Homo sapiens: one gene and its partners. The protein of the gene in region 2 purifies or fractionates together with the protein of the main gene of each other region. This does not show direct contact. Each region holds a gene or a part of one and is shown on either strand. Other genes may lie near its edges. The genes, in order: IFT52, FAM210A and COPB2.

Evidence for each region.
Region 1: the proteins of FAM210A (region 2) and IFT52 purify together in Homo sapiens (affinity purification with mass spectrometry; one large-scale study listed by BioGRID and IntAct). This does not show direct contact.
Region 3: the proteins of FAM210A (region 2) and COPB2 purify together in Homo sapiens (affinity purification with mass spectrometry, with the first as the bait; one study listed by BioGRID). This does not show direct contact.

What each region holds. Positions count from the first base shown.
Region 1 is NC_000020.11:43,635,937-43,639,589, reverse strand, and holds part of IFT52 (intraflagellar transport protein 52 homolog), read right to left. Parts: coding exon 3,577-3,653; intron 2,446-3,576; coding exon 2,337-2,445; intron 1-2,336. UniProt on the Homo sapiens protein: Involved in ciliogenesis as part of a complex involved in intraflagellar transport (IFT), the bi-directional movement of particles required for the assembly, maintenance and functioning of primary cilia. Required for the anterograde transport of IFT88.
Region 2 is NC_000018.10:13,667,534-13,671,186, reverse strand, and holds part of FAM210A (protein FAM210A), read left to right. Parts: intron 1-3,653. UniProt on the Homo sapiens protein: May play a role in the structure and strength of both muscle and bone.
Region 3 is NC_000003.12:139,358,499-139,362,151, reverse strand, and holds part of COPB2 (coatomer subunit beta'), read left to right. Parts: intron 1-856; coding exon 857-1,071; intron 1,072-2,789; coding exon 2,790-2,882; intron 2,883-2,973; coding exon 2,974-3,154; intron 3,155-3,339; coding exon 3,340-3,408; intron 3,409-3,653. UniProt on the Homo sapiens protein: The coatomer is a cytosolic protein complex that binds to dilysine motifs and reversibly associates with Golgi non-clathrin-coated vesicles, which further mediate biosynthetic protein transport from the ER, via the Golgi up to the trans Golgi network.

The DNA of each region.
Region 1 (3,653 bases), on a different chromosome or scaffold from region 2:
CAAGCGATTCTCCTGCCTCAGCCTCCCCAGTAGCTGGGATTACAGGCATGCGCCACCACACCCAGCTAATTTTGTATTTTTAGTAGAGAAGGGGTTTCTCCATGTTGGTCAGGCTGGTCTTGAACTCCCAACCTCAGGTGATCTGCCCACCTTGGCCTCCCAATGTGCCGGGATTACAGGCGTGAGCCACTGCACCCAGCCTTTTTTTTTGTTTTTTTGAGACAAGGTCTCATTATGTTGTCCAAGCTGGTCTTGAAATCCCAGCCTCAACTGATCCTCCTGCCTTGGCTTTTTGAAGTGTTCAGATTATAGGCATGATCCACCGTGCTCAGGCAATTTTTTTTTTTTTTTTTGTAGAGATGGGGTCTATGTGACCCAGGCTTATTTCATACTCTTTTTAACCAATCCCCCTAATGATGGATGGACCATTAGACTGTTTCCAATTTTTTGAATGCTATAATTAATATCTATATCTTTTTTGTCTTGCATTTCTACAAGGATTTCCATAGGACAGTTGCTAGAAACAGAAATGCCAAGTCAAAGCTGCTTCTTCACCGTTCTGTGATTCCTCCTGGACTCATCACTATGTCCTGCTCATTTTTGACTGCCCAGGACCCACAGCAATGCCTGCCACAGAAGAGAGATGCAGTAAAGGTCTTCGTTTACACTGAACTGTTTCCATTTTGCTTACTTCTTTCTGGGCTTTGGGCACATACAGATGTTACTGACATAGCTGGTATCCTCTTGTACATGCAGTTTTATATCTTGCTTTCTTCATTCAGGATTCTCTCTTAAATTCTGTCTGTGTCATATGTGTCATTCCCTAGCCTTTGTGAACCTCTTTTATAATGACTACATATTCTCCTACCAAATGAATGTGACGCATTTTAAGACCATTACTCTGCTAGTGGACATTAAAGCTATTCCCAAATTTATAGTTTTTTTCTATTTTTAAAAATTGTTATTTTTTTAAAATATATTTTTAGAGACAGGGTCTTGCTATGTTGCCCAGACTGGTCTTAAATTCCTAAGTTCAAGCGATCCTCCTACCTCAGCCTCCCGAGTTTATTGTATTTTAAAAATAAATAGTGTAGAAGTTGGCCGGACGTGGTGGCTCATGCCTGTAATCCCAGCACTTTGGGAGGCTGAGGCGGGTGGATCACCTGAGGTCTGGAGTTTTAGACCAGCTTGGCCAACATGGTAAAACCCCATCTCTACTAAAAACACAAAAATTAGCCATGCGTGGCGGTGGGCAACTGTAATCCCAGCTACTTGGGAGGCTGAGGCAGGAGAATCGCTTGAACTCAGGAGGCGGAGGTTACCTCGAGCTGAGATAGCACTATTGCACCCAAGGCTGGGCGACAAGAGTGAAACTTTGTCTCAAAAAAAAAAAAAATATAATCTCCTTAGATTAGAGTTCCAGGAGTGGGGTCACTGCCTCAAAGTGGATGGTTAATTTTATGCCTCTGAGCATATATGTGCAGACCCATTTGCTGTGTTGGAGGCAATTCATGTCAGGAGCAGCCCCAGACCAAAAGTCAGGAGGACCACTCACCGTGGAGCTGTGTGGCCTGGGGCCTCATTTCTTCATCCACATGTCAAGGTGGGCACACTTGGCTCTCTCTCAGATCCTGTCCAATTTGAAGTCTCTATCATTCTTTGGGCCTTACTCAATTTCCTTATTTAGCTGCTCCTATGACCACTGACTGAGATTTGCTAAGTGGCAGCCAGGGTCAAGATTAATTCTATGGTCTCTCAATAGGTCAGAACTAAGGACTCACAGGGATCAAAGCTGAGACCTTTGGCTTTCTGCTTGGCACTATGTTCTAATTCACTGAACTAAATAGCCTCGAGAAGAACAACCAACATTATTTACATGACATAAATAAGAATGGTAAGTTTATACTCCTATTCATATTTTGTTTTCCCTAAACAAACTCTAAGCAGTCTCTCATAGCAATTCTCAGAAATTCATGATTAAATAAAACTCATAAGAGAAAACAAAGTTTAAAAGTTGGCCAAACTTAGGCCAGGCATGGTGGCTCACGCCTGTAATCCCAGCACTCTGGGAGGCCGAGGCGGGCTGATCGCCTGAGGTCAGGAGTTTGAGACCAGCCTGACCAATATGATGAAACCCCGTCTCTACTAAAAATACAAAAATTAGCTGGGCGTGGTGGCGCATGCCTGTAATCCCAGCTACTCGGGAGGCTGAGACAGGAGAATCGCTTGAACCTGGGAGACAGAGGTTGCAGTGAGCCGAGATCGCACCATTGCACTCCAGCCTGGGCAACAAGAGTGAAACTCTGTCTCAAAAAAAAAAAGTTCGCCAAACTTACACTTATTGGTAATCTGAGCCAGCCGTGCCTTCTCAGAGGAGAACGTTTCATCTAAATCAAATAGCTCCAGAGGAGGAGGTGGTAACTCCCGGAAACTGGGAGGAAAAACCTAAAAGGAAATAAAGTCATTATTTAGAAATGAGGGAGGATAAGGTAAAGGAAATAAAGTCTCTCAAGAAAGAGCTTGTCCAAAATCATAACTAACAGTGATAAGACACAAGGAGAATAAGGAAGTTCACATCCTTAATTCCTCAGTTGGGAACCACACCACATGGAAACCCCTACAGAACAGTAACTCGGCTCTTCCCTGAGGATGAAATACCCAAACTCCCATCACCTCGTCTACCCTCACCCATTAGACCCATACCAAGAAAGATTATTAGCCCACTGTAAACAACCAAGTAGAACCAGCTCTAATTACCACTAAACTGACCAAGCTGACATACCAATGCTAATTAACTCAGAACGATGACACAAAGCTTGGGGCTTAGGTTTGTGTTGAACATTTGATTGTACAACTTGTTTCTCATTTAATCATAAGTTTTTAGGGATGGAAGTTATTTGGAGAACCAGATGCAGATTAGTGTAGAAAGTATTGAACCTGGAGTCACATTTTGTAGGTATGAACCAATGGTATGCGGGTAAATGTTTAACTACTTTCAAAACAAAACAAAACTGAAGGCCTGTTTTGTAGCATTTACCATTTTCTGTAATGTAAATCCTCTCACCATGGCCAATTTCAAGCTACCAAGCAAGATCAAGCTAACTGGCTCATAACATTTCAGAATGTGGTGAGACAAGGTAATTTTAAAGGCAAGTTGAATGTTGGACTGAAATGTTGAAAAATAACCTATTTACACACATGACCATAACTATCCCCTGGGCTGTGAGAATTATGTTATGAATCAGGCCCTGACACCTGGAATGGCAGTACAAAGTTTTCTTCCTTTTTATCCAAGAAATCTCATATATGCCCTCCAACCCCACAAGATGAGAATAGGAAATGTTTAATAGCCAGAAGGCTCCACATCCTTGATTCCTCAATTTGGAAGCATACCACATGGAAGTCTCTATAGAACATTAACAAATTTGGTGTCCATGCATGTTTAGAGACAGAGCACTATGACTCCACAAGGAGTGCCACAAATGGCACATGGAAGGGACCACAGCGAATGCCTGCTGACAAGATAAGGGCAACAGTGGGGCTCTGCAGTGGGATCTCCCAAGCACACCTACTCACCGCAGGCTGAAGGGTTGGCAGCGGCGTCTCAAACTGAGGCTGGATGAGCTGGAGTGGTTCATGTTTCACATTTAGCT
Region 2 (3,653 bases):
CAAAGCCAAAAGAGGAGATCCCCCTATTTTACTGTTTTTAATAATTCATCTTTTCTTAGCAAGTAAAATAGGTTTAATCCAAATTGTCTTATATGATAAACCCTTTTCTGTTAGATTTTAACCTAACATATGTTTCATTTTAAAAGTTGATAATCTTTGTAACTATTCTCCGGATTCAGACAACTTTTTTGAGACGGAGTTTCACTCTTGTTTCCCAGGCTGGAGTACAATGGCGCGATCTCGGCTCACCGCAACCTCTGCCTCCCGGGTTCAAGCAATTCTCCTGCTTTAGCCTCCCAAGTAGCTGGGATTACAGGCATGTGCCACCATGCCTGGCTAATTTTGTATTTTTTTAGTAGAGACGGGGTTTCTCCATGTTGGTCAGGCTGGTCTCAAACTTCTGACCTCAGGTGATCTGCCCGCCCTCGGCCTCTCAAAGTGCTGGGATTACAGATGAGACCCACTGCAGCCGGCCTGACAGCATCATCTTGATAGCTTCTATGCCTATGGGTCTTTATTTTGGAAGGGAAGACTCACTGTAAATTGTGGAGTTTAGCCATATTAATCTCATTTTCTAAACTGACAAATATTTATGAGGGTCTGTGAAACTTCTACCTAAGGAAGTTGAAAACACAGAAACTAGATGTTTTATTTTACTTCTGTTGTATAAGAATATCTAAGAATTACAGTTTTACAGCATTACTCAAAAGTAGCATTGTTTCATTCTGTCATCCTCATTAGCATCCTCTGAAATCTTGGTAGATTTCCTCTTTTATTATAATTTTGATGAGAGGGCTAACATTTAATTTTTGAGTTTTTCTACATTAAAGTGTATTAAATTTAAAAATTATCAAGTTTCTAATTATGGTGGGTATAATTTTAACCCGAGTAAGTCAAACTATCATGCTGATGTAAACCTTCCCTAATTTAATTGCTCCTTATCCCACTCCCATAGCATGACAGTTGATAGCACAGTGTGTGCTAGGTGTTAAGTGTTTGTTTTATTTGATTAGGAGCTCCCAGGAACTCAGAATCATGTCTTCTTTCTTGTTTTTTTTCACTGCACCTGGTATTATGTTCTGTAGGTGAATAAAATGCTCAGCACGTGTTTGTGGAGTTGGGATTGAAAATGAGGCTGTAGGCGTCATGGTAGGGAGATGAGTGCCAGTGGTGTTTCTTCCCCCTCACTATTCCTCTGTGAAGTAGGAGATATGGAGGGGATTCTCCTTTGTATTATCTGTAACCCCCAGTTTCTCAAATAGAGCAACAGACACAGATTTATTGCTTCAACAAGACAAAGTCCCCAAATGAAGTATGGCATGTATGGTCTGGTGGCAGTTGGCTACGGGATATATTCACTGACTGCCTCATAATCTCTTTGAAATACACCCAGAGTTTTAGTCATCCTCTGCTGTGTGCTAGGTACCATTCTAGGTACTGGGAATAAACGAATCAAAGAAGACAGTGCAAAATACCTGCCTCATAGGGCTGATAGTGTAGTGAGTGGTAGTGGGTTGGGGAGACAAGGTAAAGTTAGAAATGCATGCACACACAAAGTGTGTGTACGTAGATGATGGTAACTGCTAAGAAAGGAAACCAGGGATGGGGGTATGGATTTGTTTTTCAATGGGAGATGGCACACCTTGCTGAGAAGGTGAGAGAGTTGCTCCTCCAAGAGGGAGGAGCATTCCAAACAGAGAAAATCCGAAAGACAAAGTTCTGAGGCTGCAGGATCCTGGGAGTATTTGAGGGATGCAGGGAAGCTAGTGTGACCGGAATCAGTGAACAGGGCAGAGAATGGCGTGTCATCAGATCAGGACAGCCTTGTTGGCCCTTAAAAGGACTTTGCTTTTTACCCTGAGGACATGGAAAGCCACTGGACAATTTTAAGCATCCTGCCTCTGTTCCATCAAAATCACTTTGGCTGCTCTAGTAACAGACCATGGCGGGATCAGGGGAGAAGCCAAGGGACCTGGTGTGAGGTGAGGTGATTACAGTATTTTAGTTGAGAGGCAATAGTGGCCAGAACCCAGGTGGTAGCAGGAAGTAGTTGGATTCTCGATACGTTTTAAAGACGTGGTTGCTGGGGTTTTCTGATGGTTTGGATATAAATTATGGAAAAGAAAGAGGGGTTGAAGCTTTCTTGTAAGTTTTTGGCCCGGACAACTGGAAGAATAGAATTGCCATTTTCTGAGATGAGTAAGACTTTGAGAGAAGCAGGTTTGAAGTAGGACAGTCGAAGATCCGAAGGTCAGTTTTGAACATGCAGTCATGTGCCACCCAACAGCATTTCGGTTAACCATGGACTACAGACAGTGATGGTCCCATAGGTCCCATGTTTTTATGAATGTCATATTTTTACTGTAACTTTTCTACATTTAGATAGTTTAGGTATACAAATACTTACTGTGGTCTTATAATTGCCTACTGTGTTCGGCACAGTAGTGTGCTGTACAGGTTTGTAGCCTAGGAGCAATAGGCTATACCTTGTGGCCTGAGTGTGCAGAGGGCTACACCATCTAGGTTTGTGTAAGTACACTCTGTGAAGTTTCACACAACAATAAAATCACCTAATGACACATTTCTCAGACCGTATCCCCATTAAGTGACTCACCTGCATTAAGTTTGAGATCTTATTAGATATGCAAATGGAGGTGGTTGTATATACTGGAATTCAGGGGAAAAGTTCAGTCTGGAGATTAAAGTTAAGAATCATCCATGTATAGTTGGCACTAAAGACCAGAGAGTGAGATAGGTAGAGAAAATAAGAGGTCCAGGGATCGAATGTTGTCACACCACGTTCAGAGGTGGGTGAAAGGGGAGGAATTGGCAAAAATGAGAAGCCGCCATGAACTAGAAGGAAGCCCAGCAAGTTGAGGGCCTGGAGCCAAGTGAAGGGAAGGTGAAAGCTGTGTGGGATGGTTCCAGTGGTTCAGGGGCTGGTTCCAAATTGACAACTGGATTTAGTTTTGTAGAGGTCACTGTGACTTTGAAAGCAGTTTTGGTGAAGAGGTATGGGTGAAAGCTTGCTTAACGTGAGTTTAGGAGAGAAATTAGAGATAGAGCAGACAGCTCTTTCAAAGTTTTGTTATACAACACACCTATGCATTTTGTTTTGTTTCGTTTGAGACAGGATCTTGCTGTTTCCCAGGCTGGAGTGCAGTCGTGCAATCACAGCTCCCTGCAGCCTCGAACTCCTAGACTCGAGCAGTCCTCCTGCATCAGCCTCCCAAGTAGCTGGGACTACAGGCACATGCCACTTACTCCCGGCTAAGTATTTTTCTTTTCTTTTTCTTCTTTCTTTTTCTTTGTGTTTTAAGAGATGGCAGGGTCTCATTATGTTGCCCAGACTAGTCTTGAACTTCTGAGCTCAAGCAGCCCTCCCGACTGAGCCTCCCAAAGTGCTGGGATTATAGGCGTGAGCCATTGTACCTGCCAACACCTATGTTTTTTGTTTTGTTTTGTTTTGAGAGGTAGCTTCACTCTTGTCGCCCAGGCTGGAGCGCAATGGTACAATCTCGGTTCGCTGCAACCTCTGCCACCGGGTTCAAGCGATTCTCCTGCCTCAGCTTCTCAAATATCTGGGATTACAGGTGCCTGCCACCACGCCCGGCTAATTTTTGTACTTTTATTAGAGACTGGGTTTCACCATG
Region 3 (3,653 bases), on a different chromosome or scaffold from region 2:
CTCTATTTTGCAAGATAAGAAAAGATGTAAAATAGTATGTAAACTAGTCTGGAAAGCCTAAGAGTACAGACATAGCAGTTATTTGCCAATGTCTGAAACTAACTAAAAATATGTTGGTTTTGAAAGACAGCCCAACCCCCTCATCTTTTGGTGTTGAATAGAGCAGGCAGTCAGAGAAGGACAGTGCTGCCTTGGTGGCACTCACCTTCAGCAGCAGATGCTCTTAGCACATCTGGTCTAAATGTTTGAGCTAAATGAGCTGTTCAGGGAGGCTCAAGTGGGAGAAATGTTAATACCATTTTTGTAATGATATTTTTATAGATCTTTGTATATTGAGGCTCCCAATTGTTTCAGACTGGCATTTACTGGTAAATTAATTTCAGATGTGCAAAATAAATTTTAGCTACGTTAAGATCATCTAAACATGCAGCATTTTGAGTTCTGAAAAGCTACAAGTGAGACATAATATTATTGTGAAATATTTAAAGACGTAGTTTTGTATGCTTTCAAAAAAGTGATATTAAATCACTTGTTAAAATAATTGCAGTCTAATTGCCTTAAAACTCCAGTGAGATGGTTTTACTTTCCCTGTGTAATTATAAGATAAAAGTATAATGGGTTGACGATAATTATTTGCACATCATTAAAATTGATTTGTGTTTAAATTCATTTTGTATACATTAATAATTTCCATTTCCTCACTGTACATTTTGCAATGCCATTCTTATTTTGATAGAGCCAACTTAACAAACACAGCTCTTTTTATAAACATTGTCTGCACAGTTAACAGAATAATGTTGGAAATGTAAATGCTTATTTCTAAAGATATTTTAACTTGGAAACTCTTTTCTTACAGTCAGAACAGAAGTGGAAACAACTTGCTGAACTTGCCATTAGTAAATGTCAGTTTGGCCTAGCCCAGGAGTGCCTGCATCATGCACAGGATTATGGGGGCCTGCTGCTTTTGGCCACTGCCTCTGGAAATGCTAATATGGTGAACAAGCTAGCAGAGGGTGCGGAGAGAGATGGCAAAAATAATGTGGCATTCATGAGCTACTTTTTACAGGGCAAGTGAGTATTAATTTAAAAGATTAATTAATTCTACACTGAGGATGGTTTTTGGAGAGGGAAGTGAAGAATGAACCCTGGAGAGAACTGATGAATGGCCAAATGGTGTTGAATAGACGGGGCAGTCAGAACAGGACAGTGCTGCCTTGGTGGCACTCACCTTCAGCAAGGGATGCCCTTAGCACATCTATCTAAATGTTTGAGCTAAATGAGCTGTTCAGGGAGGCTCAAGTGGGAGAAATGTTAAACACCTTCTTCAACAGCCCTGCCAGTTAATGGTGGAAGCATTTTATTTTATGATTGCAGGAGGCTATTGAGCTGCTCTAGTAGGTACCTGAAGGGCAGGTGATTTTACCCAAATTGGATAACTTTGATCCATTTATGGCAAGAACAAAAGGGGATAAGTATGCCACTTACTTGTAGATTTGAGCCCACTATAAAGCATAAAGATGTCTCATATTTTTAAGTCTAACCGAGTTAGCATAAACCAAATCATTTGGACATTAGTTGGCAGTATTATGAAATAAAACACAAAAGTATTCTTTCCTTTTTTTTTTTTTTTTTTTGAGATGGAATCTCACTCTGTTGCCCAGGCTGGAGTGCAGTGGCATGATCTCGGCTAATTGCAGCCTCTGTCTCCCTCGTTCAAGCCCTTCTCCTGCCTTAGCCTCCCAAGTAGCTGGGATTACAGGCATGCGCCACCACACCCGGCTTGTGTTTTTAATAGAGATGGGGTCTCACCATGTTGGCCAGGCTGGTCTCAAACTCCTGACCTCAAATGATCCGCCTGCCTCGTCCTCCCAAAGTGCTGGGATTATAGGTGTGAGCCACCACGCCCAGCCCGAAAGTATTCTTTAACCTTCTCCTACATACTGATTTTTTTTTTTTTTTACAATCCCATACTTCGCCATATAACTTTGAACGTGCACCCCATTGTATGTATGTGAATGTATTTATGAATTTATATACCTGTAAGAATAGACCCTATTCCTTATCCATAATTCAAAAATCCAAAAATATTCTGAAAACAGTTATAACTGTTTTGATGGCAAGACCTGAGCTGAACTGCTTTAGTATTTTTAGTTGCTTTTATACCAACTTGGTACATTTTTATTGCATTTAACATTCCTATGTAAGTTATTGCAGTATTAATGTTTGTGGCTTTTTCATGCTGAGGATGTAAGGTAATACATAGTATACATACTGTATCACCTTTCGAAAATCCAAAAAATCCTGAATTCTGAAACATATTGTCCACATCATAAAACTTGCACAGAAAAAAAATGAAATTAAAATAGAAGAAAAAATAAGACACCATGGTATTCTGCTGGGCACCACTGGCTTGTCTGGCCCTTCCCATGTTGGAGACACTGCCCTAGATATTTGTCTTGTGGAACTGAATTTCTGCTGGCATATATCCTTATGCCTTTAAAATTTGCTAATCTAACCTGCCTTAACTCCTCTTGAAAAGCCCCTTTAGGTTCTTAGGAATTATAATAATTAAGTTAAGTAGATTCAAAGTAGTCAGGAAAGCTGTCTTATCCCTCATACCCTTGCAGTGTGTTGATTAACAACCATTAAAAGACAAGTGACAGAAATGAGATATATGTGTGAAGATTGGGGAGATTTTTGGCTTTGTAACACTAAATTTACTTTGTGTTAAGTACCCATTATTATAGTGTTTATTCTTGGTAACAGTACCTCTCCTTTTTAATGTTTAGGGTTGATGCCTGCCTAGAGCTCTTAATTAGAACTGGACGGCTGCCAGAAGCTGCCTTCTTGGCCCGAACTTACTTACCCAGTCAGGTTTCAAGGTACAGACTTTTAATTTTAGGAAGAAATGTTTCCAATAAAAAGAGAGCACATTTACTTAGTCTCTCTTTGGTTCCATGATGTCTATAATAGGGTAGTGAAACTCTGGAGAGAGAATCTCTCAAAAGTCAATCAGAAAGCAGCAGAATCCCTTGCTGACCCAACAGAGTATGAAAACCTGTTCCCTGGATTAAAAGAAGCCTTTGTTGTTGAAGAATGGGTGAAGGAAACACATGCTGATCTGTGGCCAGCCAAACAATACCCACTTGTCACGGTGAGTGGCCAGGATGTCAAGCTTCATTTATTGTAACTACAGGGTGGAAGTACATTCAGGACTTCAGATTTTGAACTGCTGTCTTCTTTTAAAATTAAGAGCTGATATCTGGGATTTAGGCCAAGTTCATAGGTAAATTATGATTTCAGAATATCTCATTTCATCATTGCTTTATTCTCTGATAGCCAAATGAAGAGAGAAATGTCATGGAAGAGGGAAAAGACTTTCAGCCCTCAAGATCTACAGCTCAACAGGTCAGTAGAGCACTTCATGTGATAAATTTGGCTGAGATGGTTCACTTTTTTTTTTTTTCTTTTGAGACAGAGTTTCGCTCCATTGCCCTGGCTGGAGTGCAGTGGCGCGATCTAGGCTCACTGCAAGCTCTGTCTCCCGGGTTCACGCCATTCTCCTGCCTCAGCCTCCCGAGTAGCTGGGGTAATTACAGGCGCCCATCACCGGTCCGGCTAATTTTTTTGTATTTTTATTAGAGACAGGGTTT